Homo sapiens: one gene and its partners. The protein of the gene in region 1 interacts with the protein of each later gene in a pairwise test. Each region holds a gene or a part of one and is shown on either strand. Other genes may lie near its edges. The genes, in order: CELF1, CUX1, R3HDM2, GRAMD1B, CXXC5 and IFI27L2.

Evidence for each region.
Region 2: the proteins of CELF1 (region 1) and CUX1 interact in a two-hybrid assay, tested with the Homo sapiens proteins (one large-scale study listed by IntAct).
Region 3: the proteins of CELF1 (region 1) and R3HDM2 interact in a two-hybrid assay, tested with the Homo sapiens proteins (one large-scale study listed by IntAct).
Region 4: the proteins of CELF1 (region 1) and GRAMD1B interact in a two-hybrid assay, tested with the Homo sapiens proteins (one large-scale study listed by IntAct).
Region 5: the proteins of CELF1 (region 1) and CXXC5 interact in a two-hybrid assay, tested with the Homo sapiens proteins (one large-scale study listed by IntAct).
Region 6: the proteins of CELF1 (region 1) and IFI27L2 interact in a two-hybrid assay, tested with the Homo sapiens proteins (one large-scale study listed by IntAct).

What each region holds. Positions count from the first base shown.
Region 1 is NC_000011.10:47,480,133-47,483,632, reverse strand, and holds part of CELF1 (CUGBP Elav-like family member 1), read left to right. Parts: intron 1-100; coding exon 101-180; intron 181-776; coding exon 777-938; intron 939-3,500. UniProt on the Homo sapiens protein: RNA-binding protein implicated in the regulation of several post-transcriptional events. Involved in pre-mRNA alternative splicing, mRNA translation and stability.
Region 2 is NC_000007.14:102,195,126-102,198,625, forward strand, and holds part of CUX1 (Homeobox protein cut-like 1), read left to right. Parts: intron 1-381; coding exon 382-478; intron 479-1,508; coding exon 1,509-2,180; intron 2,181-3,500. UniProt on the Homo sapiens protein: May be involved in intra-Golgi retrograde transport.
Region 3 is NC_000012.12:57,256,654-57,260,043, reverse strand, and holds part of R3HDM2 (R3H domain-containing protein 2), read left to right. Parts: intron 1-984; coding exon 985-1,154; intron 1,155-1,906; coding exon 1,907-2,054; intron 2,055-3,390.
Region 4 is NC_000011.10:123,433,269-123,436,768, reverse strand, and holds part of GRAMD1B (protein Aster-B), read right to left. Parts: intron 1,336-3,500; coding exon of another isoform or gene 1,302-1,335; exon of another isoform or gene 1,054-1,301; intron 1-1,053. UniProt on the Homo sapiens protein: Cholesterol transporter that mediates non-vesicular transport of cholesterol from the plasma membrane (PM) to the endoplasmic reticulum (ER).
Region 5 is NC_000005.10:139,647,097-139,651,148, forward strand, and holds the start of CXXC5 (CXXC-type zinc finger protein 5), read left to right. Parts: upstream 1-1,252; 5' UTR 1,253-1,749; intron 1,750-1,854; exon of another isoform or gene 1,855-2,085; intron 2,086-2,238; exon of another isoform or gene 2,239-2,632; intron 2,633-3,892; exon of another isoform or gene 3,893-4,052. UniProt on the Homo sapiens protein: May indirectly participate in activation of the NF-kappa-B and MAPK pathways. Acts as a mediator of BMP4-mediated modulation of canonical Wnt signaling activity in neural stem cells.
Region 6 is NC_000014.9:94,127,281-94,130,864, forward strand, and holds IFI27L2 (interferon alpha-inducible protein 27-like protein 2 precursor), read right to left. Parts: upstream 2,325-3,584; 5' UTR 2,285-2,324; coding exon 2,278-2,284; intron 2,012-2,277; coding exon 1,982-2,011; intron 1,396-1,981; coding exon 1,234-1,395; intron 713-1,233; coding exon 519-712; 3' UTR 501-518; downstream 1-500. UniProt on the Homo sapiens protein: Plays a role in the apoptotic process and has a pro-apoptotic activity.

The DNA of each region.
Region 1 (3,500 bases):
TCTGTATTGCTAGCATGATAGTCAGCACATAGTAGGTGCTCAGTTAATGTTTGTCAGAGAAATAAATGAATGCATGAGTTACTGACTCTTCTCTTACCAGGTTGTGCATTTGTGACTTTTACAACAAGAGCCATGGCACAGACGGCTATCAAGGCAATGCACCAAGCACAGACCATGGAGGTAGGGAGCAGATAGGTGATGGGGAAAATTCCTCAGCTTGGGAATGCTGGGACAGTTGGCCATTAAAGTCCAGCAGCATGTGCAGCATCTGATTGCCCAGAAGGTTAAACAGCCAACATCTTAAAGTTAAAAACCACTGATTTCTTTAAAATTAACGTATTGGAAATGCTCTCCCTACCCCTTTTTTTGAGATGGGGTCTTACTTTGTCACCTGGGCTGGAGTGCAGTGGGAATATCATGGCTCACTGCAGCCCCAACCACCCAGGCTCAAGTGATCCCCCCTACCTCTGCCACTCAAGTAGCTGGGACTACAGGTGCACACCAGCACGCCCAGTTAATTTTTGTATTTTTTTTTAATAGCGACCGTTTTGCCATGTTGCCCAGGCTGGTCTAAAATTCCTGGGCTCAAGTGATCCACCCGCCTCAGCCTCCCAAAGTGTTGGGATTACAGTCTCTTCTCTCTTGTGTCTATCATGAGGAGAATCATTTGGCAGTGAATGAAATTAGAATGTAACCTGCATGTCATCCAAAAGGAAGATTTTTTTTCTTCTTTTCAGATGGAGGAATTTGACCCTTTCGTTATGGTCTTTTCACAGGGTTGCTCATCACCCATGGTGGTAAAATTTGCTGATACACAGAAGGACAAAGAACAGAAGAGAATGGCCCAGCAGCTCCAGCAGCAGATGCAGCAAATCAGCGCAGCATCTGTGTGGGGAAACCTTGCTGGTCTAAATACTCTTGGACCCCAGTATTTAGCAGTGAGTCTTTGTGGTTTGCTTTCTGCAGACTGTGCAAGCTCCCAGCTGTTCCTTCTTCTGCTGTCCCTAGCCAACAAACACAGTGGCATTTACAACTTTTGGCATATAGAAATTATATGTAAAAATTCAGGTAGTACTATTTCTTTTAGTCCTGTTAGTCTCTTTCTCTCTCTATATATATGTATCTCTGGACATGCATCTCTGGTTATATCTTGAGGCTTTTGCTGCAACTAAAGTGAATTCCTGGTTTCCCGTTTTAAAGATTTAGAAACATCTTGTGTCCTTGCCTCCAAGAAAGAAATTCCTGAGGGAATCTTAACTACCAGTGTCTTTCTCCATATCTCTTTCTACCAGATGTAGAGGGCATCATTAAAATCCTTATTGAGTCTTTCCTAAAGAGTATGATAAATGTTTCTTTCAGCGGACTTGAGAGATCAAGAGATTTTTTTTCTTTTTTTGCTTTATTTATTTATTTATTTATTTATTTTTTGAGACGGAGTCTCACTCACTCTGTCACCCAGGCTAGAGTGCAGTGGCACAATCTTGGCTTACTGCAACCTCCACCTCGGGTTCAAGTGATTCTCCTGCCTCAACTTCCCAAGTAGCTGGGACTACAGACACACACCATCACACCCAGCTAATTTTTGTATTTCTAGTAGGGATGGGCTTTCACTGTGTTGGCCAGGCTGGTCTCGAACTCACGACCTCAGGTGATCCACCTGTCTTGGCCTCCCAAAGTGCTGGGTTTACAGGTGTGAGCCACTGCGCCTGGCGGAGATCAAGAGATTAACATGAACATTTTTAAATGAGCATTACAGGTGTATATTCAAGTTTACTACATTGTAAATAGACTTCCTTTAATTTGATCTCTCTGTTGTCGTGAGCCAAAAGAAGGTTGTCTAGTCCAAAAGAAGGTCTCGCCCCAATTTGTGATTTAGATTTACTAGGTCTGCAGTGTATATGTTACAGGGGATTATTAATGGAAAAGAATTGGGCCAGCACAAGACAGTTAAAACCACCCATTTGTGAGTCAAAGAGGAAAAAGGTCATCTTAGGCTATTAATGGTGAAACCACTAGATTTGTATGGATGATACAAAAATATTCACATAGAAATAGCTAGTATAGTCATTTATTCCTCATCATTTCAAGTATTATTCTGTATGGAAACAGACAAAAGGCACTGATTTCTGTCTCCCAGTACTGAATTTTGGTTTAGTTCCAGTGGTTTTCATATTTCTAATATCTTATAAGAAATCCCAGTTTAGGCCGGGCGCTGTGACTCACGCCTGTAATCCCAACACTTTGGGAGGCTGAGGTGAGTGGATCGCCTGAGGTTGGGAGTTTGAGACCAGCCTGGCCAGCATGGTGAAACCCTGTCTATACTAAAAATACAAAAAAATTACATGGGTGTGGTGGCAGGTGCCTGTAATCCCAGCTGCTCGGGAAGCTGAGGCAGGAGAATGGCTTGAACCTGGGAGGCGGAGGTTGCACTGAGCGGAGGTTGCAGTGAGCCAAGATCGCACCATTGCACTCCAGCCTGGGCAATAGAGCGAGACTCTGTCTCACAAAAAAAAAAAAAAAAAAAAAAAAAGAAGAAGAAAAAAAAAAAAAACCCCAGTTTATCCTAGCTAGTATTTCTCTGAAGTTTTTTTAAAAAAATATAAAGAGTTGGGGTTGTTTTGTTTTGTTTTGTTTTGAAGCCTCGCTCTGTTGCCCAGGTTGGAAAACAGTGGCGCAATCTCTGCTCACTGCAACCTCCAACTGCAAGCAGCTGGGATTACAGTCATGTGCCACCACGCCTGGCTAATTTTTGTAGTTTTAGTAGAGACAGGGTTTTGCTTATGTGAGCCAGGCTGGTCTCAAACTCCCGACCTCAAGTGATTTGCCTACCTTGCCCTCCCAAAGTTCTGGGATTACAGGCGTGAACCACTGGGTCCGGTTATATTTCAACAGAAAAAATTGTTTCTTAGTGCTGAAACATTGCTTATATGTTCAGAAAATTCAGGGAGGTTTTAGTCATCTGCAGAAATGATAATGCTTTGAAAATGGTCTACATGCTATGCATTTGCTTTTCTTAGAGACTTTTGGAGCCCCCCTTTAGGGAAGGTTAACCTTTTTGTTGTCATTGCCACTACCAGCAAGTACATGATGGCATGTGTTGAGAGCTGTGTTCTCTTTGTTTTGGTTAGACATGATTCCTGCCCTAAGAGCTAATCTCATTTGGAGGGAAATGAAGGGACCAAGTACAGTATTCACCGTCCACCAGTTAGGACTGAACACATAGCCCAAGGTGTTTAAGAAGAAAAAGGCCAGGCGCGGTGGCTTATGCCTGTAATCCCAGCATTTTGGGAAGCCGAGGCAGGCAAATCACCTGAGGTTAGGAGTTTGAGACCAGCCTGACCAACATGGTGAAACCCCGTCTCTACTAAAAATACAAAAATTAGCTGGGTGTGATGGTACACACCTGTGGTCCCAGCTACTCGGGAGGCTGAGGCAGGAGAATCGCTTGAACCTGGAAGGCGGAGGTTGCAGTGAGCTGAGATCACCATTGTACTCCAGCC
Region 2 (3,500 bases), on another chromosome or scaffold:
AAAAAAAGAAAAGTTCCCTTTACAGTAACGTTCGGACAGACGTTTGTGGCTTGGCAGCCAGTCTTATGGCCAAATGAGGCACGGGCTCAGGTCGCTTGAGTTTGAGAACAGATGAGAGAATAATTAATTTTTTTAGGAGCTGTGGAAGTCTAAGAAGGAAAATGACTTCAACTAGAATCCATTCTTTCTAAAGGGAACTTGTTTTCCACGTGTGTTAAACGACTTGGGGGGAAATCAGCTGTCCGCAGCCCACTTCCTAATCAGATCGAGAGCTGGGTGGGAACGCGGACAGATGGAGGGAGGCAGGGCTCCAGGCCTGGTGGCCCCGGGAGCGGGTGAGTGGCCGGCCCCGCAGTGAGACCCCCGCTCTGCCCCTTCTAGGATGCGGCCAAGCCCCTGGAGGTGCTGTTGCTGGAGAAGAACCGCTCGCTGCAGTCCGAGAACGCCGCGCTGCGCATCTCCAACAGCGACCTGAGCGGTAGGTTGGCCGGGCTTCGCGCGTGTGCGGTGGTTGGTTCGCTTCCAGGGGTCGGTCGAGGACGAGGAAGGTGAATCGTGAGTCTGGACAGATGCATGGCCAGAGAAGCGCCGGTTGACGAGAACCTTTGACTAACGCGTGTTGGGTGCCCTCCTCCTCACCGCTCCTCCCTTCCCTTCCCCGCCCTGCTTAAAGCTGGATGTCGAGACGGGCCAGCCGCACAGGCTCTGCGGAGGTCAGTTAGGGGCAGTGCGGCTGGAATCCCCGGGAGGGACAGCTCGGAGGACGTCGGCCTTTCTGATCTGTGTCTGGTTGTGCTGCACAGAGGCCAGGGGCAGTGTGAACCCAGCCTCGCTCTGGTGGTGTTTTCAGGGACAGCCCCGGGCCTGCCGGGTCCAGTAGAGGTTTTTCTTCCTTGGTCAGGTTTCCCCTGGGGACGCGTCCCCCATCCTTAGCCTTTCTTGGCTCATCCCCCAAATGGTGGCGTCACTTGACTGTGCTTCTGGTTTGGGCAGCTGGTAAAACGCGTACAGGTGTCTCGGGCTCTAATGGTATTGCATTCTCAAAACGGGCGCGCGCCTCCACATCGAGGGGGCTCGGTACGGTGCATCGCCTCAGAGCAAGAGGTGCGAGCGAATCCATTGGTCCTAAAATGTCAGTGTTTGCTGCTCCTCCGGCCGGGGCCAGCGGGCCCAGTAAGAGGCCCGCGACCCGTCAACTCTTCCCTGTGTGTGTCACCAGCTCCTTGTCACGCTAGGAGTTTGAGTCTATGTCAAGGGGACTCTCCAGGCTGCAACGTACAAGAAAGGCGCAAACATGAATGCATGTTGCTTGTTTTGGGAAGCCTCGTTTGGCTGACTTACAAATTTAATCGGAAAACAAACCAACCCACCTCATTGGCCCTTGTAAAAAAAACCTGCACTTTTTTTTGTTTTCCCTTTTGCGGGGGCAAACTTTTGCATTTTGGTCTTGGTTTTTTTTTCCCCCTTTGGAATCCCCCATAATGCATTCTGTTTGCCCTTCCTTGTAGGGTCAGCCAGGAGGAAAGGGAAAGACCAGCCTGAAAGTCGGCGCCCGGGATCTTTGCCGGCCCCCCCTCCTTCTCAGTTGCCCCGCAACCCGGGGGAGCAGGCTTCCAATACTAATGGTACACACCAGTTCTCACCAGCGGGGTTAAGTCAAGACTTTTTCAGCTCATCCCTGGCAAGCCCCAGCCTACCCCTGGCTTCTACAGGAAAATTTGCACTAAACTCTCTTCTCCAGCGGCAGCTAATGCAGTCCTTCTACTCCAAGGCTATGCAGGAAGCCGGAAGCACAAGCATGATTTTTTCAACAGGTCCATACAGCACAAACTCCATATCTTCCCAAAGTCCATTACAACAAAGCCCAGATGTCAATGGCATGGCCCCATCCCCCAGCCAGTCAGAAAGTGCTGGGAGCGTCTCCGAGGGCGAGGAGATGGACACTGCAGAAATCGCCCGGCAGGTCAAAGAGCAGCTGATTAAGCACAATATCGGACAACGTATTTTCGGACATTATGTGTTGGGACTGTCTCAAGGGTCCGTGAGCGAGATTCTGGCCCGGCCCAAGCCATGGAATAAACTGACTGTTCGTGGCAAGGAGCCATTTCACAAGATGAAACAGTTCCTCTCCGATGAGCAGAACATCCTGGCCCTCCGTAGCATCCAAGGCAGACAAAGAGGTGAGAGACTGGCGTTGGGTGGCGCCAGCGTGCGAGCCCGTCACAGAGTTGCACATGTGTGTGTGCATGCGTGCGTGTGTCTGTGTGCGTGATGAAACATTTGTGCATCACATCAGGTAAAGTTCTCTTTGCTTCTGCCACGTCCAGAGCTCAAGGGTGGCCCGGCATGAGTTAAGGCTGTTAGATTTGGGAGATCTGGCCTTTGAAACGCACTCAGCACTCCATACTTAGGAAACCCTATAGTATTTCAATACTAGAGATCGTATCAGAGGGAATTGCATTACATGATGTATAGCGTCTCCGTATGCTTAGTGGCCGCGGGTCCAATTGGCCTTGGGTGCTGGTCTCACTTTTGGGAGGAGCCCTTAAGTCCCCTCCAGCCCCATAGCAGCAACGTTGACTGGGCTCGATCCTCATGCAAAGCTGGTTCTGTAGGGAGAACACATCACAGATGACACCTCCCCTCTTCCCACCCCGCAGAAGAGGGCGTGTCCCATGGCCACCTTCCCTACATTGTTCACGGTCCATTAGTGATTTGTTTAGCATTATGAGTAAAACAGGCCTGGCTTGAGTAAAATACACAAAAGTTTTATTTAAGCACCCTTTCTACCCCACCCTCCGTAAAAAGATAAAATGTCAGTCACATTCATAATTTCAAAAAATCCCAGCCGGGCACAGTAGCTCACGCCTATAATTCCAGCAGTTTGGGAGGCTGAGGTGGATGGATCGCTTGAGTCCAGGAGTTCAAGACCAGCCTGGGCAACATATATTTTGTAATCTTTTGATCTACAAAAAAATCAAAAGGTTAGCTGGGCGTGGTGGCGTGTACCTGTGGTCCCAGCTACTTGAGAGGCTAAGGCAGGAGGATGGCTTGAGCCCAGGAGGTGGAGGCTGCAGTGAGCCATGATTGAGCCACTGCACTCCAGTCTGGGCAACAGAGTGAGAACCTGCCTCAAATAAAAAAACAAAAAAGAAAGTTCCTTTTCTGTTTAAGACCAGGGGATCAATGTGCCACATCAACAGAGCTATTGAGAGGTCATTTCATCAGACATGTTTGAAACACCCTGAAATTTAGACTCAAACAGAGCAGGGAGATGTTTTGAACAGCATCAATTTGCACCAAGAAAATGCAGTGTTTTATGAGGATGTTAACCGAAATTGAATGTCTTTGGATGATTAATGCGAGCTTTGTTCTGGGGGCTGGCGGGTGATCCTCCTTCAAGGCAGTCCTCCCTCCCATGGACCTCCCTGGCCTCAATGCCGTAGGTCGCTACTTAGATTTCCCCCATCTCCTTTTGCAGCAGAGCCACGGCCTCTGCG
Region 3 (3,390 bases), on another chromosome or scaffold:
AGTCCACCTGCCTCGGCTTCCCAAAGTGCCGGGATTACAGCCATGAGCCACTGTGCCCGACCTTCAGTAGCTTCCTGACTGGTCTTTCTTGCTGCTGGTCTCTCTCCCTAGCTATCCTACATTTGGCCGTTTGAGTTAGCTCTCCAAAGCATAGGTCTCCCAACACCTACAGGATAAAGTCCAAACATCTTACCAGAATATGCTTCAAACTCTGACACCAACTATTTGTTTAATGTCTGACTCTTTAATAGACTGTCCATTCTATCAGGGCAGGGACAGCCTTGTTTTTTGTACACTCAGTGCCCAACATAGGAACTAGCACATAGCAAATGTTCAATAAGAGTTTGTTAAATAAACGTGTCTCATCTCCTACTGCTTCCCCTATATGGCCCCTGTGTCTTAGCACCTTGAATCATTTGTCAGTTCCTGAATATGACATACATCTCCATGCTTAAATGCTTAAAATGCTTCCCAGCTTACCCCATTCTTGGCCAAGATGTACTTTCTGGGTCTGGCATAGTGAAACTATGTGGATTTATCTTCTCCAGAACAACCAGAGGTCACTGCCTTATCTATAGCCATTACCAGAAAAGCCTGCACGTGTCTGCAGCCCTGGCCTGTGGCCCAGACCTGGACCCGTACCATGCCTAGACATTTGAGCAATCTGACCTGGGCATTTGGTTATAGCCAGCGTTGACAGAATGGAGTAGTTTTCTGCCAAGCATACCAAAGTACCCCTCACCAGGTGAAGGCCAGGGGAGCACTGGCATCTGGGGCTCATATCCCTTCCACTCAAACTTCTACTGGTTTGAGAAGATGGAGTCAGAAGCCACATCAGCAGCCATCTCAGGTTCCTGGCAAGACGTAGCTTGAGTGACCCTGAGGCAATGGGTGGATTTATTTGCTGCTTTCCCACTCAGGGCTAGTTGGAAGGCAAAAATACAGTTGGAATTTGTAACCAACTGCTTTCTTCCTGCCCTTCAGGAGTGTCACCTTCTGGACCAGGTGTAGTGGTCATGCAGCTGAATGTCCCTAATGGACCCCAGCCCCCTCAGAACCCATCCATGGTCCAGTGGAGTCATTGTAAATACTACAGCATGGACCAGCGGGGGCAGAAGCCTGGAGACCTGTACAGTCCTGACAGCAGCCCCCAGGTGAGTGCAGCACTCAGCCTTGTCTTGGCAAGGAGATGACCGTATTCTTCCCGGGGCGCAATGTTTGCTATTGACTGAGCAGCCTCTTTTACATGTCTTTTCCTGGGTACTTTCTGGGGAGAAACACAGGAAGTAGACAGCATCCTCTTTTAAGGAACCTAATATATAAGGTGGCAGGTGGGATACACACTTGAAAATGCTCAGAGAATACTTAAATCAATATGCCAGAAATGGATATTAAAATAACATAAATGGGCCAGGCATGGTGGCGCACACCGGTAATCCCAGCACTTTGGGAGGACAAGGCGGGAGGATCACTTGAGGTCAGGAGTTTGAGACCAACGTGGTGATACCCCGTCTCTACTGAAAATAAAAAAATTAGCCAGGCGTGATGGTGGGCACCTGTAATCCCAGCTACTCAGAAGGCTGAGGCAGGAGAATTGCTTGAACCCAGGAGGTGTAGGTTGCAGTGAGCCAAGATTGCACCACTGCACTCCAGCCTGTCTGGGTGATAGAGCAAGACTCCATCTCAAAATAAATAAATAAATAAATAAATAAATAAATAAATAAATAAATAAAATAGCATAAATGAATTAAGGACTGAGGTTGCAGTTTGAAGGAAGAGTCTGACTTTGGCAGAGTTCAGCAAGAGAAACTTATTTCCTGAGAGAGGTGAATTTTAAGCCAAGCCATAGGAATATCCAGAGGGTAATGTTTGATGTTTATGTGACGTGTGCTCCTCTTTTCCACAGGCCAACACACAAATGAGCAGCAGCCCTGTCACATCTCCTACCCAGTCTCCAGCACCCTCTCCTGTCACCAGCCTCAGCAGTGTCTGCACAGGACTCAGTCCCCTGCCTGTCCTCACACAGTTCCCCCGGCCTGGGGGTCCAGCACAGGGTAGGGGGTTAGATTAGTGCTGGCTGCTATGGAATTCACCTTTCACATCCCATTCCCAATTGCAGAGATTGAAAGAGTAACAACAGGCAGAGGACCAGTGTAGATGATCCAATTCTGGGAGTTAACTCTTCCTTTAACATCCCTGTATAGGCCTTGGACACTTGCCCCTCTCTAGTGCTGTCCATGCTTAACTTTCTTTAGCCTTCTTTACATACTTAGTACTTACAACCAAGTAGGTAAAAAGAGCTGGAGAAAATAAGTTCACTGAACTTTCTAATGACCAAAGAGTTTAACCTAATATCAGTACCAAGTCTGAGGGCTGGGAATGTGGGATTTTGTAAGAAACGGTATGGTCTTAGAAAAGGAACCACTAGATTTGGTTTCAGAAGTTCCAGTCTCACCACTAACTAGCTTTGTGATGTTCAACAAGTTACTTAAACTCAGAAGTAGACCTCACTTCCTAGTCTGTAAAATGGGGTTAATCACACATAAGATGGGAATTTTATCTGCTTTCTGCCTTAGCTGTCACAAGCAGTATAAAAATGAGAATGTAGTTTAAAAACTTTAAAGTGCTCTGAAATGTAATATTTATCAATAATAGGTAACACTTAATGGTACTTAATATGTACCAGGCATTGCTATAAATGCTTTACATGTCTTATATTTGTTTAACCTTTCCAGCAACATTAATGAGGGAAAAAAATACCCAACGTTAGATCATATTTCCAGTAACAGAGCCACTATTTTAACCCAGGCAGTCTGGCTCCACGACTATGCTCTTGTCTACTGTGCTTATACTGCCTCTCACATGAGTCAGAAACTTGAACCCTGGGTTTAGGGGTTGGGAGAATCTATATAAGAGATAAAAGACAGCCGGGCGCAGTGGCTAACGCTTGTAATCCCAGCACTTTGGGAGCCCGGGGCAGGCGGATCACCTGAGGTCAGGAGTTCAAGACTGCCTGGCCAACGTGGTGAAACCCCATCTCTACTAAAAATACAAAAAAAAATTAGCCAGGCGTGGTGGCACATGCTTGTAATCCCAGCTACTCGGGAGGCTGAAGCAGGAGAATCGCTTCCCAGGAGGCAGAGGTTGCAGTGAGCCGAGATCATGCCATTGCACTCCAGCCTGGGTGGCGAGTGAAACTCTGTCTCAAAAAAAAAAAAAAAGAGAGATAAAAGACATTCATAAGGGTCTGTAAGTTTCTTCCCTGGTCATTTTCATAGGACTGTTGTCTACAGTGGATAGAGCCTTTCTTCAAGGATGATGGGACCTAGTAGTCCCATTTATCTGTGAGACACAGTTGAGAGCCAAAGGATTTAGGAAGAGAAACAACTC
Region 4 (3,500 bases), about 76 Mb from region 1:
AATAAAAAAAAATTGTGCCGTCTTATGTTCAATGGTAGTTAAGATGATGCTTTGCAGTTAGACCACTGAAAGAAAAGAGCAAGACTCCAGGCCTTCACCTCCCCACGCTTCCTCCCCACTACACGGAACAGCAGAAAGTAGTTGCCTCGAGCAACACTTTGAGAGTGTCTCTCCCAAGCTCCAGAATCTACGACAGCTCCTCATTGAATTGACTTCACTTTGCCTAGGAAGCGCTCTGCATATAGGATCTCAATACCTGTTTGATGACTGAGTGATTCATTGAAATTCAAACTCTTTGGCATAAATCACCTTCGGTCTGTCAGCCTCACCACCTTCATTTTTCCACATTCCTCAACAAGATCACATTTGGTCATCCATCTCTATCTTCAAGCCAACACATCCAAACTGCTTTCACCTATAGGCATTTGTTAACCCTTCAAAACTCAGCTCTCTATAGATCAGTGGTTGTCTAGGGCTGGGGAAATGGGATGGAGAGGGTGAAGGTGCTAGCCAAAAAGTATGAGTTTCAGTCAGGCACAGTGGTTCATGCCTGTAATCCCAGCACTTTGGGAGGCTGAGGTGGGCAGATCATGAGGTCAGGAGTTCAAGACCCACCTGGCCAACATGGTGAAACCCTGTCTCTACTAAAAATACAAAAATTATCTGGGCGTGGTGGCGAGCTTCTGTAATCCCAGCTACTCAGGAGGCTTAGGCAGGAGAATCACTTGAACCCAGGAGGCAGAGGCTGCAGTGAGCCGAGATTGAGCCACTGCACTCCAGCCTGGGTGAGAGAGGGAGACTCCGTCTCAAAAAAAAAAAAAAAAAAAAAAAGTATGAGTTTCTTTGTGGGGCAACAAACGTTTTTAAAAACTGACTGTGGTGATGGTTGTACATAGCTGTGAATATATTAAAAACCACTGAATTATGCTTTAAATAGGTGAATTGTATATTATATAAATTATATCTCAATAAAGCTGTTTTTAAAAACTCAGCTCTGTACTCATCTCCTTTTGGAAATTTTCCCACACTCATGAATAAAAGAATTTCACTTTAAACAGTAGAGAAAAAGGAATCATTTATTTACTCATTATTAACTCATCAACAAACATCTATAGATCTATAGATCACTGTAAGAGGTCAGGTACAGTGCTGTGACGATACAAAGATGAACATGATTGGTCTTGGAGTATTCCAGTGAACACTGGAAAGTTAGTAAGCCATGCTGTCTTTACCATTTGTTCCACTTCTTCCTTCCTAGGGTTTAAGGAGAAGAAAAGGGTCTCCTAATCCTCTTCATATTTTCAACTTTGTGCAGTGAAAATCCGCAAGCTTGAGCTTCAAGTCAGTGACAAGTAAAAAAACAAACAAACAAACAAATAATGAAACAAATAATGAAAAAACAAAAATTAAAAGAAATCCACAAGCTATGGCCCTCTCAGCCACTTAACTTCTACCACATCACGCTGAATTTCATAGCAAGCCTGAAAGGTGTTTTTCTCTCTTTTGGAGCAGGAGATTTGGGGTGGGGAATGTGGAGACGTCATGCTGGGCCTGGTATGCTAATCCTCCCTAATCCAGGCCAGAGCAGAGCCATTTTCCAACCATCATTTCCAAATCCTGAATTGTGTGAGGAGGCTCAGGTGCTGCTCCAGGACACGTGAGTATGTAACCTCATACTTTTAAGCAAACATCCATTCCATGTGAGAGACTCACAGAGTAATGAAATAAGCCTTCACCCTTGCACAGCAAGAGGAAGTTTGCAAAACATTTTCACATTCACTACTCTTCAGACTTCCCATTAACCCACAGAGATCCTCTTCCACAAATGAAGAAGGTGAAACTCATGGAGGTAAAGTGAAATGCTCAAGCTAATCTCCATAGCTAATCGATGATAGAACTTAAATATACAGCTGTCTTCTGATATTAAGTCCAATGTTCCCTGCACTCCATTGCCTCTAAATGCCAATTCTATTTTCTTTTGGAAATGGAGTCTTGCTCTGTCGCCCAGGCTGGAGTGCAGTGGTGTGATCTCAGCTCACTGAAACCTTTGCCCACAAAGTTCAAGCAATTCTCATGCCTCAGCCTCCTGAGTAGCTGGGATTACAGGCGCGCACTACCATGTCCAGCTAATTTTTGTATTTTTAGTAGCAACAGGGTTTTGCCATGTTGGCTAGGCTGGTCTCGAACTCCTGGCCTCAAATGATCTGCCTCCTCAGCCTCCCAAAGTGCTGGGATTACAGGCATGAGCTACCACACCCCGCCACCAATTCCTTCTCAGGCCACTTGGTGGTATCTACGAGCACCTATTCACTTGATTGCTGCTTTTCTTGGAAGGAAGCCTTTCATCTTCGAGGCCTAAAAATGATGGGGCTTTGTTTTACACACAATCCAAATAGATTCCAACAGAAGGCAGTATAACAGTAGCTAAGAGTAGATGTGAGTCACACGAATTTGAATTTGAATCCAGAGTCTGCCTTTTCAGATACATATGTTCTTGTTTTTTGTTGGTGGTGGTTTTTTTTTTTTTTTTTTTTTTTTGGAAACGGAGTCTCACTCTGTTGCCCAGGCTGGAGTGCAGTGGCGAGATCTCGGCTCACTGCAACCTCCACCTCCTAGGTTCAAGCAATTCTCCTGCCTCAGCCTCCCGAGTAGCTGGGACTACAGGTGTCCACCACCACACCTGGCTAATTTTTGTATTTTTAGTAGAGACGGTGTTTCTCCGTGTTGCCCAAGTTGGTGGCTAACTCCTGAGCTCAGGCAATCTGCCTGCCTCATCCTCCCAAAGTGCTAGGATTACAGGCGTGAGCCACTGCGCCCGGCTGATACATAGGTTCTTCTAATCCAAAAGTCACCACTTAAAATAACTGCCTGAACTACATCTAGATGAAAATCCTGCCAAATTTTAAGGATATGTCCCCAAATCCAACAAAATGAAGGTTCCACTACACACATAGACAACTCTCGAAACCAGGAATACCTTCCTAAATCTAACCAAATCTACTGTCATCCCCATCCTAGCCAGCAATGCAAGATTTTTTTCTTCATACACACAAAGACACACACACACACACACACACACACACACACACGCACGTAACATTTTAAGCGTTGGGGGTGGGGGTCTCACCATGGCTGAAATGCAGTGGTTATTCACAGGCACCATTATAGCCTACTAAAGCCTTGAACTCTTGGGCTCATGTGATCCTCACACCACAACCCAAGTAGCTGGGAATACAGGCCATGCCATTGCACCCGGCTCTTTTTACCATATTTTGTCCTCAGTATATATGGCAGAATCTCAAGATCAAAAGAAGGTCTCTTTTAGTTTCTTTTACATTGGAGGGAAAAGCCGACAAGCCATGACAAACTACTTTATTTATTTATTCATTTAAGATGAAGTTTCGCTCTTGTTGCCCAGGCTGGAGTGCAATGGCGCGATCTTGGCTCACTGCAACCTCCACCTCCCGGGTTCAAGCAATTCTCCCGCCTTGGCCTCCCGA
Region 5 (4,052 bases), on another chromosome or scaffold:
GCAGAGCAGAGGAGAGGAAGCAGCGAGGTGGGAGACAGTTTCGCTTCTCCCACCGAGGCCGCGCCTGTGGCTGCAGGCGCCCGGATCGCCACAGTTAACTCCCTGTTATCTGGGCCCCAATCGATCTCAGGCTGTAACGTTTAACCCTAGGCTGACTTCCCCAACCGCCCTCCCCCTCTCCCTCCCCTGCTTGGGTCTGGGGACTGCGTTTTCTTCGCCTCGCAGAGGAAGGTCGGCCTTGCACAAATCCGCCCCCACGAATCCCAAAGAATTGGAGAAAACTTCCACTTTGGGATTATATGCAGTTGGGATTATATGAGCCCGGGGCTTGCACCATGGGTACGTGAGGTGAAGACATCTGCAGCAGCAGGATTAATTAGCCTAAGATGGGCATATGGAGGCCACTGATGGAGTGAAAGCGGGATATGCGGGCCCAACTCTGTCCCCACTGGGCGCCTACTCTGGCAAGGCTGAGTTTTCCTTCTGTCTTTCAATCAGTACCTATTGAGCGCTGCTGTTCCAAGCATTGTTTCGGGTTTTGAGTGCGTAGGCCATGGTCTCAGGGCACCAAATGTACGTAGTCGTTTTAGCCCCGGGACTCAAGAGTTGAGGCTGATGCCTGCCTGAGAGATAAAATATCCTTTCTCGGATCAGTTTCCTCACCTGAGAAATGGGAACGGGAATCTCCGCCCCTTTTCTCCCGGGGCCCTAGTGCCCACTGAATCCATTAAGGAGCTCTTGGAAGGGTGGGGTCTTGGAACACGCGTCTACCTCCCAGGACCCTCGACTAGGAATCTCTGGCCCGCCGCGCACCTGAGCTGGGGGGCGCGGCCAAATTCTCCCTCCCGGTCCTCGAAGCTTCTGGCCCCGCTCTAGAGGGGGCAGAAAGATAGCAGATTTCCCCGGAGGTGCGTCTCTAAACCCAGACCGCCTCACCAAAGCGGGGAGGTCGTCCTTTTTTTTTTTTTTTTGTAAAGTTGCGGGAAATAGGCGAAGACGGGGCGCGCAAGGGAGCTGAGCCTGGGTGGACCGCGTCAGGGCGCGGGGAGCTCGAGGCGCAGCGGCTGCAGCTCCGGCCTCAGAGCCCGCGGCGTCCAAGTGGCCCGAGCTGCGCTGGGAGGGAGGCGGCGGGAGGAGGGAGGGGAGCCGAGGTGGAGGGGGTTGGGGGGAGGAGGGAGCGGCGAGTCCGGTCCGGGTTTTGCCGGCAGCCCCCGGGCAGCGTTCATAGCTCCTGCCCGGGCGGGCGCGCGGCGGCGGCGGCAGAGGCGGCTGAGCCTGAGCGGGGATGTAGAGGCGGCGGCAGCAGAGGCGGCACTGGCGGCAAGAGCAGACGCCCGAGCCGAGCGAGAAGAGCGGCAGAGCCTTATCCCCTGAAGCCGGGCCCCGCGTCCCAGCCCTGCCCAGCCCGCGCCCAGCCATGCGCGCCGCCTGCTGAGTCCGGGCGCCGCACGCTGAGCCCTCCGCCCGCGAGCCGCGCTCAGCTCGGGGGTGATTAGTTGCTTTTTGTTGTTTTTTAATTTGGGCCGCGGGGAGGGGGAGGAGGGGCAGGTGCTGCAGGCTCCCCCCCCTCCCCGCCTCGGGCCAGCCGCGGCGGCGCGACTCGGGCTCCGGACCCGGGCACTGCTGGCGGCTGGAGCGGAGCGCACCGCGGCGGTGGTGCCCAGAGCGGAGCGCAGCTCCCTGCCCCGCCCCTCCCCCTCGGCCTCGCGGCGACGGCGGCGGTGGCGGCTTGGACGACTCGGAGAGCCGGTAGGTGTCGGGCCACGGCCCTCCCTCGACCCCCCCCGGAGGCCGGCCCCCTCCCCTTCCCCGCCTACCTCCCTCTCCTCCCCCGGGGTTCGGTGCGCGGCCGGGGCCGGAGTTCGCTGCAAGTCGGCGGAAAGTTTGGCTGCGCGGGTTCCCCCGAAGTTCAGGTGCGGAGAGCCGGGGACGGGGAAGGAGGGGTCCGTATTTGGGAGGGGCGGGGGGCGCCCGCACCGTAAGCCGCGGAGCCCCGGAGCCTGGGAGACCTAGCGCCGGTGATCGCTTGGTGGCCGCTGCTATACCCAAGCCTCCCTAAGCCGCAGTATGCTCGGTCGCAGATCACTGAGTTCAGACAAAAAGAGGGGTTTTAGGGTCTGGGACGGCGGCTTGGGCGCCGTGGAGTGGGGCTGGGACGCTCCTTGCGGGGTGCCGCCCCCCTCCCCCCCACTACTCCAGTTCGCGGGCGCTGGGGCAGCGGGCGCCCGGGGTCCTCACCTCTTGGCGTTGGGCGGGCGCTCAGCCTGCGGGGGCGGCTGCTTGTAGATCTCTGGCGCGCACTCCCCCCATCAGACCCCGCTCGCAGCCCTGTGTTGAGGGGCGACGTTAACTGCTCTGGGCGCCCTCGACCACGCGTGGCTGAGCCTCCCCCACCACTTGGAAGAAGCGGCGGCTACTTCTGCATTTTTCCTCCGGCTCCTCGCCCCCGCTGCCCGCGGGGTGCCCGGCGGGCTGATGAAGTTTGACCTTTTTTTTCCATCAAAGTATCTCCCCCACCACCACGGTGCCCCGCGGCCCCTCCCTCCCTCCTTTCCCAGCCTTGGGGAGTCTTTTGAGCTGTCTCCCGAGCCCCGCGTGGGCCACGCAGCGTGCAGAGCCTGGGAGGGAGAATGGGGGTGTTCCTCTAGCTGCGGAACTGTGGGGGGCGTACGTCCCCGGCGCCTGCCACGCTGCACTGGCCCCAAATTTACCCATGAAGTTCGGCCCGACCCCCCTCCCCTTCGCTTCCCCGGAGCGGAGTGAGGGGCTGAACCGCCGCGAGAGGAATGTGTTAATTTTCTGGCTGGGGGAAGTTGTCCTCGCCCGGAATGGGCTGCTTTCCGGCGGGGAGCGCGGGGTGCGCCTGGCTTTGTTTATTTGTAGGATCGACGGAAAGCGAGTGACCCCGGTTTTTAAATGGGGGGCCACCTTCGGGACCTGTCAGAAGAGCTGAAACGCCCAAAGTGGGAGCAAGATCTCTTTTTGTTCTTTTTTCCCCCCCGGGAATCTGAAGGGGTGCGCGGAGTTGGGCTGGTGCCTCGGGCTGCAAGGAAGCACCAGTAAATTTGGGGGGTTCTGTAGTGACTCATTCGGAAAGACCCGCTCCCTGAAGTCTCCCGCGACGGGGGTCTGAAGGTTTGGCAACCGCGCCCTCCTTTGCCCCCTGGACTTTGGGTGGTCTGAGAGTCGCGCCTTCGGATGGGGGGGGAGCTAAGGGGGTGACCAGCGGACCAGACTCCTGACCCCCACCTTTCCTCGCGCGGCGGGCGCTGTTTGGAGCCCTTGGATTTGTGGTGGGCCCTGTCCCCCCCACCCCCGCATTTTCTTTGGAAGCGTTGGGGAGGGGGCGTGTGTGAGATCGCTCGGCCCTCGCCCCCGCCGGAGCCGCCCCAGGGCCGCCGGCAAACAGAGTCCCTTTCAAGTTTTCCGCTGGGGCCGCCTGGCGGGGGCTGCGAGCGCGGTCGCTGCGGACTTGTTTGGAGCGCGATTTGAACGCCCGGCTCCACCTCAGCTGCCCCAGGCCGCGGGGTGGGGGGCGTCTGTCCTTTGCAGTTGGGAGTATTTAAATTAGACGTCTTGGGGGACCTACTGGCCTAAGCTTCACCTGATCCCCCTCCTGAAAGATGCCCGTGCCTTGGTTTCCAACCGCCACTAGAAAACCGGGAACTGAGACCGAAGCCCCCTCTAAACCCCTTTCTGAGAGCCGTGCGGGGAAACTCAGGCCGGCGGGCTACCTACCCGTAACTGCGTATTGTTGATTTAGCAGTTTCCCTAGATGAGAGTCAGGCTGGAGCTTGGGGGGGTGGGGAGTGGCCCGCTCTGCAGCTGTCACCCCCCTCCCAGAACGGAAATTGTCCTCTCCTTGGGGAGGAGGGAGAGGGGGTGATGGTTTGATTTTTGCCCTGGGAAGAGATGGGAACAGCTGAAGGAGATTGGCCTCCGAGTTCCCAGCCAGCCCCCGGAACTTGGGTAGAACCCCCCTACCCCTCATCCTCGCAGTAGCTGGGTCTCTCCCAGGGACGCCCCTAGTCAGCCTTGGCCTCCCTCTCCAT
Region 6 (3,584 bases), on another chromosome or scaffold:
CCACATTTTGGTGACCATTCCTGACTCAGCCTCCTCCCCTCAAAGTGCCTAGAGCCTGCATGTAACACTGGACACATTGTCTTTTCCTGCTGGCTTGCTTATCGGCCTTCTGACAAGACTTTGAGGTTAGGCAAGGGAAGGATGGTGTCCTGCTCATTCTGGGTATCTAGTGCCATTAATGAAGAACAGAGGGCTCTACAGTCAGTGGTTCCTGAAGTGCCCTGGCTACCCCTCACCCCTGCCTCCCAACAGGAGCCTGTGACAATGCCAACATTGAATAAGGGGGAAACTGAGGCCCAGAAAAGGCCCACGAATGGCCCTGGGTCACACGGCCCATCTCCGTAAGGCTGAGACCAATCAAAGCCTTCTGCCTACCGATTATCTGCGTGGCCAACCACCTCCCTCTGCCCCTCCATGACAGGGCAGTCTAGGAGAGAGGGAGAACTGGAAACCTCCAGCTCAGAACACCAACCAGAGCTGCAAGAAGCAAAACAGGGAGATGCATCTGCATGTGACCTTTATTCCTCATGTTTCTCTGACTTGAGTGGGGGTTTTGGAGGTTCACCTTGGGGTACATTTTCTCTTGCCTCATCTTCTTTAGCCTCGGGTTCAGCTGGGAGAGAAGAAGAAGGTGAATTCCCCAAGCAGGCCCCCAACACTGACCCAACAGAGGCCAGGAGGATGTTGGATGATGTGGAGAGTCCAGCTGCCCCTGTGGAGGAGACAGAGAATGAGCACAGGGGTCGGGCAGTGGCCCAGAAATCCCACCCGGATCCCTCCTCCAGGTCCTGAAAATCCCAGGGCTCTGCCATGGGTAGAAGCTGCTAGAGGCAACTAAAAGACAGCTCAGGGGTGAATTCACGGAAACTGAGAGACAGAGGGAGAGTCATCCACAGACAGACCCTAAGAGCTACAGAGCCCCTCACTTTACACAGGAGGCCACTGAGGCCCAGAGAGGACAGGGGACCTTGCCCAGGTCACCCAGGTGTCAGAACCCAGGCATTGCTCTTGGCCTAGGTTCCTTTCCTCTTCTCCCTACCCAGCACCCCATCACCCCTCCACTCCTACCCCAAACCTCACTCAGAAGGAGCCAGAAGAGGGGACAGTGAGGGAGAGACTGAAGACCCAGGAAGCTGAGGGTCACGGAACTTCAGGGTGAGAAGAGCTTCCCTCGGGCTCAGCCTCAGGGCTGGATCTTCTCGCAGCTCTGGTGGTCCTGTCTAGGACACTTACCCACGGACTGCAGAGTAGCCACCAGGCTCCCCGCAGAAACACCACCCCCGTTGGCAATGGCTGCTGCGGACATCATCTTGGCTGCTATGGAGGACGCGGCGATTCCTGCCCCAGTGAAGCCCATGGCACTGAGCACCACGGGCACAGCCCCCACTGCCAGGGCTGTGGGGAGAGAGAAGCTGAGTGCAGAGGTGGGCTCAGGAGAAGGGACCCTTCCCCCCGCCCCCCGCTTAGGAATTCCTTGACAGTTTCCGGAGACTGTCAGCTTGAGCAATACAGAGATGGCAACTTAGTGGTCTTCTGGTGAAGAAAAGGTGGAGTGTGGAGCCAGGTGAAGCAAAGATGTCATAGAAGGACCAGCCATGGCCCTGGTTTGTCTCTAACTTGCTGTGTGATGCTGAGGAAGTCAATACCCTTCATTGGTCTCAAATTTGTGTGTGTGTGTGTGTGTGTGTGTGTGTGTCCACGCATAAATGTGAAATAAGCCACGTGGAGTTTAGCTGCAAATCCTCTTTCAAACGATCTTCCTCCTATGCTTATTCGACATAAGGACTAGAAGAGAAGCTGGGTCAGGAATGGGAGTGAGCTTTTCCCTGGAGTATTTTGATGCTGTGGCTCACTCAGGCTACTCGGGCAGCTTCGGAAGTGGAGGGTGAGAGCCAGCCCAGCGCCTCATCTCTGCGTTCTCCCAGCAGCCCGGGGACCAGGCTAGGTGAGGGCCTGGAGACAGGCGATCCGGGTAACTTACCTCCTCCCACTGCAGCAGCAGCTGCCCGTTCTAGAGAGAGAGTGCCAGGGGAAGGCAGAGGGAGATGGGAAAGGGGAGAAAGAGGAGAGAGAAGGGCAGAAAGGGAGGGAGGGGGAGGGAAGCAAGGAGCGGAGGGAGGAAGGGAAGGGGAGGGAGGAAGGGAGGGAGAGGGAGTCAGTAGGTCAGCTGGTTGATGAAGTCAGGGAATGAAGCTATTCCCTGTCCCTTCCTGGGCTGGGGTTGGGGAAGCCTGCCCCCAGCCCAGCCCGCCAGCCCCCTGGGGAAGCAAGACTCACTCATCATGGTGAGGCCGTCCGGGTCCCAACTTGGCCCAGGAAATGACAGCGTTCTTGGGGTGTTACTTCCCCCTCCATCCAGTAGGGACGCGCCTACTCTGCCCTAGAGAGACGCAGGCCCCGCCCCCCGCCCCACCCCGCTCGCCCGGGAGCCTTCGCGACTCCCCGGCTCGCCTGTCCCGGCTTGATGGATCTACCGAAGAGAAAAGCGCTGGAAAGAACCTGGAAGCCATAGCAAGTGAGCCCCGCTTCCAAATTGCTGTAGCACCGCCCCCCACTCCAACCCCGCCAATAACAGAAGAGCTGTTTGCTGCAAAAACCAAAACCAAAAACAACACAACAATAACAAAGAAACAAACAAAATGCAAGGAGAAAAATGATGTTTAATTTAATAAACGATGTTTAACTTCCAGAGAGACACTAATATAAATACATTCTGGCACGTTTGCTCCCAGCCTATGTCTCCCCTGAATATGTAAACACCCCCTCCACCACTTGCCAATTTCCCTTCACACTCTGCCTTGCAAATTACTTACTTTAGTTAATCAACCATTTAGATTTCCCCAGGCTGCTTAATATCCTTCATCAAGATTTTTAAAAAGTCAAGTTTATTAAGGTGTAGGTGATTTACACAAAGTAAAATTCACCCTTGTAGTGTACACTTCTGTGAGTCTGGGAGGCTTTGACGGCTCTGATTCAGACCGTTTTTTTTTTACATGCCCCGCCCCCTCCTCCATCAATCCTCTCATGCGCTTTTGGAGTCACCCACGCCCTGCTCCTGGCAACCATCCCCGCCCATTTGCCTTTTCCAGAACTTCAATATGATATTTGTCATTAAATATTCCATCCCCTTGGGTTCAACGTATCAGCCCTCCCTTTTAAGTGTTTAAAGTCTAATTTTTGCTCTGATAAGTTATTTTAGCATGAAGTGCTAACATTATGGGGCACAAGTGTTTTCTGTATATTCCTGGAGGTGGAACTGCTGGGTCAGAAACTGTGCATTTTTTACAGCACCTGATACCTGTGTTGTTATGTTGGCATCCAAAACTATTGTCATCAGTTTACATTTTCCCAGCAGTATGTGAGAGAATCTATTTTTTTTCTACTCCTCACTAACAATTAGCTTTGTCGTTAAGAAACAATAACACAAAAACCCTTTGTTGATTTAATAGGTGACTTATTTTAATATACTTTTCTCTTCACCACTAGTGAGACTAAACTATTTTTAAGTGTATTAGCTTCATGTACTCCTTATTTTGTGAGTTATCTTCTCATATTCTTGGATCCTTGTTCTACTGAAGTATTTT